Linked DNA regions of Homo sapiens: region 1 is linked to region 2. The links come from fine-mapping of genetic effects on gene expression. A gene starts in region 2. The other region holds a variant in brackets. All regions are shown on one strand. Distances are between the middles of the regions. Region 1 overlaps ARSG (arylsulfatase G). Region 2 holds the start of ARSG (arylsulfatase G).

What was found. PIP is the estimated chance that this variant, and not a neighbour inherited with it, causes the effect.
Region 1: its variant is fine-mapped to the expression of ARSG in whole blood (TOPMed, PIP above 0.99).

Annotation. Positions count from the first base shown.
Region 1 is chr17:68,313,147-68,316,052 of GRCh38, forward strand. The region is part of intron 2 of ARSG (arylsulfatase G); the gene reads left to right. Among named protein-coding and RNA genes, the nearest start is that of ARSG, 23 kb to the left of the region's middle. The variant G/A (reference allele first, on the strand shown) is at 1,312.
Region 2 is chr17:68,290,279-68,293,184 of GRCh38, forward strand. It overlaps ARSG (arylsulfatase G), which reads left to right and starts at 1,217. Exons shown (of 12, transcript NM_001267727.2): 1 at 1,217-1,290. SLC16A6 (solute carrier family 16 member 6) reads right to left here and starts at 849. Exons shown (of 6, transcript NM_004694.5): 1 at 808-849. RefSeq lists silencers at 985-1,674, 1,041-1,215 and an enhancer at 2,075-2,304.

The DNA.
Region 1 (2,906 bases), 23 kb after region 2:
GCTACTCAGGAGGCTGAGGCAGGAGAATGGCGTGAACCCGGGAGGCAGAGATTGCAGTGAGCCGAGATTGCGCCACTGCACTCCAGCCTGGGTGACAGAGTGAGACTCCATCTCAAAAAAAACAAAAATAAAAACAAAAAAACATTACTTTGTCCTTTCACAGTTCGGAGAGCCAGAAGTCCAAAATCAAGGTTATGACTGAAGGCTCTGACAGAGAATCCATTCCTTGCCTCTCTCCTGGATTCTGGTGCCTGCTGGAATCCTTGGCATTCTGGGCTTCTAGACTCCTATCTCCGCCTCAGTTGTTATGAGGCGTTCTTTCATGCCAGTGTCCAGACTCCCCTCCTCTAATAAAAATACCAGTCTTTGGATTGAAGGCCCACCCTACTCCAGTATGACCTCATCTTAACTTAATGACATCTGCGAAGACGCTATCTCCAAATAAGGTCACGTCACAGGTTCTGGATTGATATGAAATTGAGGGGAACGCTGTTCAGTCTGGTGCAATTAGCTGTATTACGTATCTCTCTCTCTCTCTTTTTTTTTTTTTTGAGACACAGTTTCACTCTGTTGCCCAGGCTGGAGTGCAGTGGTGCAATCTTGGCTCACTGCAACCTCCGCCTCCGGGTTCAAGCGATTCTCCTGCCTCGGCCTTCTGAGTAGCTGGAATTACAGGCACCTGCCACTACGCACGGCTGATTTTTGTATTTTTAGTAGAGACGGAGTTTTGCCATGTTGGCCAGGCTGGTCTTGAACTCCTGACCTCAAGTGATTCACCTGCCTTGGCCTCCCAAAGTGCTGGGATTACAAGCGTGAGCCACCATGCCTGGCCTACATATCTCTTTTTACTCCGCTTCTAACGCAGTCTATAATGTAGTAGGTGGTCAGTCAGTATCTGTCGCATTAAAGACTAAATGTCATGCTTAAGAGGGCAGGAGCCAGACAGTTTGAGCTCAAATCCCAGCTCTGCCACTTCCTATCTGTGGCCCCGGGCAAACTGCATCATCCCCTGGAGTTTTGCTTTCCTCTTCTGTAAGTGGGGACAATGATAGCACCTCTACCTCACAGGATGTTGTGAGGGTTAAATTAAGTAATCTGGGCCGGGCACAGTGGCTCACACCTGTAATCCCAGCACTTTGGGAGGCCGAGGCAGATGGATCACCTGAGGTCAGGAGTTTGAGACCAGCCTGACCAACAAGAAGAAACCCCATCTCTACTAAAAATACAAAAGTAGCCAGGCGTGGCGGCACATGCTTGTAATCCCAGCTACTCGGGAGGCTGAGGCGGGAGAATCATTTGAACCCGGGAGGC[G/A]GAAGTTGCAGTGAGCTGAGATTGCGCCATTGTACTCCAGCCTGGGCAACAGAGCAAGACTCCATCTCAAAAAAAAAAAAAAAAAAAATTAAGTAATCTGTAAACCAGGTGTGGTGTTGCACATCTGTGGTCCCAGCTACTCCAGAGGCTGAAGCACACGGATCCCTTAATGCCAGGAGTTCAAGGCTGCAGTGAGCTATGATCATGCCATTGTACTCCAGCCTGGACAACAGAGTGTCTCATAAAAAAAATAAAAAATAAAAAATTAAGTAATCTGTGTAATCAGTTAGCATAGAGCCTAGCATACAATAGATAGGGTTCTATGTTAGCTATGGTTATTTTTGTTATTGTTACTAGAAATGTCCAAATGGAATGTCAGTGTGAATTGGCTAATCTGCATGATAAAAGGTCCAGTGACAAAACTTGGAAGGATGAGGTGGAGTTCCAGTGACAAATTCCTGTTAATCCCTATGCTGGCTGTGCATTGGGGCCAACACCTTTATTTGAATCAACACAACAGCTGCAACAATCACTAACCCTTACCAAGCTCTTGCAAGGTGCCAGGCTCTAGGCATTACCCTGGCTAATTCTTGGTACCACCCTACTTTTCTCTTATATCTCAGATGAGGAAATTGAGGTTAAGTAACACGCCCAGAGTTGGTGAGTGGCCAAGCCAATATTCAAACTCAGATTTCCTCATTCTAGAGCCTTATTCTTTCAGGGCTGGGCAGAACTGGGGAATCAGCAAAGAGAATCCATCAAGATTTGGCCAGCTTTCCCATATGGCTGTCAAAGAGCAGGAGGCCAGGCGTGGTGGTTCACATCTGTAATTCCAGTACTTTGGGAGATCGAGGCGGAAGGATTGCTTGAGCTCAGGAGTTTGAGAGCAGCCTGGGCAACATAGCAAGACTTCATCTCTACAAAAAAATCAATAAATTAGCTGGGCGTGGTCCTACCTACTCCGGAGGCGGAGTCAGGAGGATTGCTTGAGCCCAGGAGGTTGAGGCCACAGTGAGCTATGATCGTGTCACTGCACTCCAGCCTGGGTGATGGAGTGAAATCCTGTCTCAAAAAAAAAAGGAGATTGGAATCTCATCATTTTTTTTCTCCCTTTGGTGCTAATGAAGGATTTTTGTGCTGTCCAAGCATAAGAGGCAACCTGAGAAATGGGATTGTATTTAGTTATTTATTTTAAGATGAAGTCTTGCTCTATCGCCTAGGCTGGAGTGCAGTGGCGCGATCTTGGCTCACTATAACCTCTGCCTCCCAGGTTCAAGTGATTCTCCTGCCTTAACCTCTCGAGTAGCTGGGACTACAAGTGTGTGCCACCATACCTGGCTAATTTTTGTATTTTTAGTAGAGACAGCATTTCACCATGTTGGCCAGGCTGATCTTGAACTCGACCTCAGGTGATCCACCTGCCTCGGCCTCCCAAAGTGCTGGGATTACAAAGTGCGTGGGTGGCACCCAGGCAGAAATGGGATTTAGATGTCAGTCATCAAAATGGTTGATGCAACCATCGTTCAGGAGGCTCACCCAGCCAGGGATGTGTGATGGCTGCAGTTTCAGGTGCCTGCAATCTTATCCTGCCTACT
Region 2 (2,906 bases):
TATACGCCACCTAACAAACTTCTATGACCTGTCTTGCTAGGGTGGGGGGAATAAAAAGAAAAGACGACAACAACCTAGAAGGAAATAACCCATTTCCTCTGCAAAACCATCTTCCCTTGCTACGGAACTGCTTGGCGACACCAGCGCTTTCCTGCGGTTGGCAGCCCGGGAACCTTGAAGTTGCGCGGGACCGGCCGTCAGCCGCTGACAGTTCTGACAGTCCAGGTGGAGGACCCGCGCTCTGCCGGGAAATCCCCGGCTTCCCGCTGGGGACAAACGGTGGCCGCCGCAGGGAGTGCTGTGTTTGGGGGTCGGGGGAGGCAGGGAGCCCCACTTTCCCTCGCGCTGCCTCAGTGCCCGGCCTGCGTGCGCGCGCCAGCCTGGGGTAGGAAGGTACCTCTGACATTTCGCTCCTGCGACGCGCAGGCAACTTCATGCGGAAAATCCGCGGAGGGGCTGAGCCTGGAGCCCCCGACTCTTCCGACGTCCCGGAGCCCCCAACCCGGGGCAGGGGGCACTCAAAGGCCAGGCGTGCCTTTAGGTATCTTCCGGGACCCAACTGTACCAGGGTCACGGACATTCAACTCTCAGCTACCCACACCGGCGCGAGCGCGTCATCCCGGTGGCCCTGGGCATTCCTAACTGTCAGAGCGAATATTTTTGGGAATAACCTCTCCAAAATGTGAAGATGTTCAGTGGTCTCCTCCGCCTCCCATCACAAAAAAAGGCCCCAACACATATTTTTTAAAAAACAACCCACATCCCACAATCAAACTTTTAAACATGTAAAATAATAAACCAACTCACCAAGTTAGAAGGGAAGAGAATAAACCCCCAAAGGCTCCCAATAAGGCGGAGGCTTGGCCTCCCCCTCCTTATAAGCCGCTCGGTAACATGAGAAAAGGATTAACCCCTTAGGGGGCGGGCCCGACTCTAGCGCAAGTTGGCTCGGGCTGGTGAGGCCCGAGCGCCCGGGCCCTCCACCCACTCCCGCGACTCGGGCACCCGAGCCACACCCTCCCCCCGCCCCCCACCCCGGCCGCCTGCGACCCGGGCCGTGCGTGCTGCCGCCCGCGCCCCGGCCCCGCGTCGCTGCCTAGCTCTTATCCTATACCGGCTGCAGCCGGTCTCCGCCGGCCTCGGGGGCGCGCCGCCGCCGACCATGTGCTGCGAGCGCTGAGCGCAGCCAAGGAGGGGGCCTGCCTGGCGCGCGCGCGCCGTCCCACGTGGACCTGAGCCGCGCCGGTCGCGCGCCCGCCAGCCTGCCGCCTGGGCTGGGGGTCACGAAAGGTAACCGCGTCGCGGTCCGGGGCCGGGCCGCCCCCGCCAGCGCCGCCGGGGTCCTTGGCACAACGCCCCGATCTCCCAACCCGGGTGCGCCTCTGCGCGCGTGACCCGCCCAGACCCCGGAGCTTTGCTGCAACGCTAGTAGGAGCGCGAGCGTGCAGGGTGTTGGGGGTGCCTGCATCCTGTCTCGGAGCACCTCGGCCAGGCGCGAGCGCGCGGGTCCCCGTCCCCACCCCCGGGCGCCTTCCCGGCGCGCCCACCGCCCAGTCCCGCCCGCGCCCTGAGGATTTAGGGATTTAGCGGCGAGGGGGAACACGCGCGCGCCGGGGCTGATCCCGCGCGGCGCTCGCGGCTGCGGCGGCTTCGCGCCCGCCCCGGGCAGAACAGGTTCCTTCCAGTTTGGGTGTGAGCTGCGCGCGCGGCGCCTGAGTTCCTCCTGCAGCGCCCACTTCCCCCAGTTTCGTCAACTCGCGCACCCCCACAGTTCCCCTTCCGGCAGTGGGGAGGGAGTGTCGCAGTGGGCCCCAGGGAGCGAGCGGCCGGGCCGCTGCGGGTGCCTTGCTTCCCCCACTTTGCTGCACCGGCAGCAGCGGCAGCAACAGCATCCGCGTTGCGCGAAAGGAATGTGAGCAGCCGGGCTGAGTCAGCATCCCCGGCCCGGGGCGCGCGCGCACCCTCCAGGCAGTGGCGGCGTCGGCACAGGTGCATGGCTCCCATACCCGCGGGGAGCCCTCTGTAAGGGACCTGGAGGTTTAGACAGTCCGTGCCCCTCATCCCGTAGTCCCCGACCCCAAGGTCACCGTGAACTAAGCGGATGATGCACGCGAAATCTCAGGAGCTCCTCATGGGGACAAAGCATGTGTCAGATCCTAGACATTTCAGAGCCTGCGGGGGCGCAAACTTAGCTTCTTGGTCTCTACCTCACATCCCGAGGGCAAATTTGGAAACTGCTCGGAAGCAAAGGCCATGTTATTTGCATTCGTATGCAGACTTTGGCGCCGGCTGCTGCCTTCATTGGGGTTCGGAGAATGTGGTTCTGATGTCAGAAACTCAAGAGAGCCTAGTTTGGGAGTGCATGCACGGAGGGTCGCCACCGGGAGGAGTCGGCGATCTGAATTTTAATAAAAATCCTTCCTTGCTCGCTGAGTTCTCTCACCATTTTGGGATAGGCTCTCCTGAGTTAAATGCCATCCTTTGCCGTTGACAAGTTCTGGTTGTGTAAGTGGGGAGAAGATTCGTTGGTACAGGGTGCCTTGTATGGCCAGTAGTGTACAGCCAAGGGGCCGCTGAGCAGCTTTGCAACCTTGTAGGCGTAATTTAACCTCGTAGAGCGTTAATTTCTCCAGATCTGTAAAATGGGGATGGAGGTGGTATTCCCAGAATTGGAGGGTTTAATTTATGGTACTTGTAAAGTGCGGATCGCAGTGACTGGCATTTGGTAAGGCCTCAGTACCCATTAGCTCTTGCTGCTGTTACGATTTATGCTTTACCAAGGCCAATTAATTGCTGACTCCAACACACTCCCTGTGAGAGAGAGCCCTTTTTTGAGTTGTTCTTCAAAGGATCCATATATAATGATATTTAGAAACTGATTTGAACACTTCATGCTAATGCAGGGC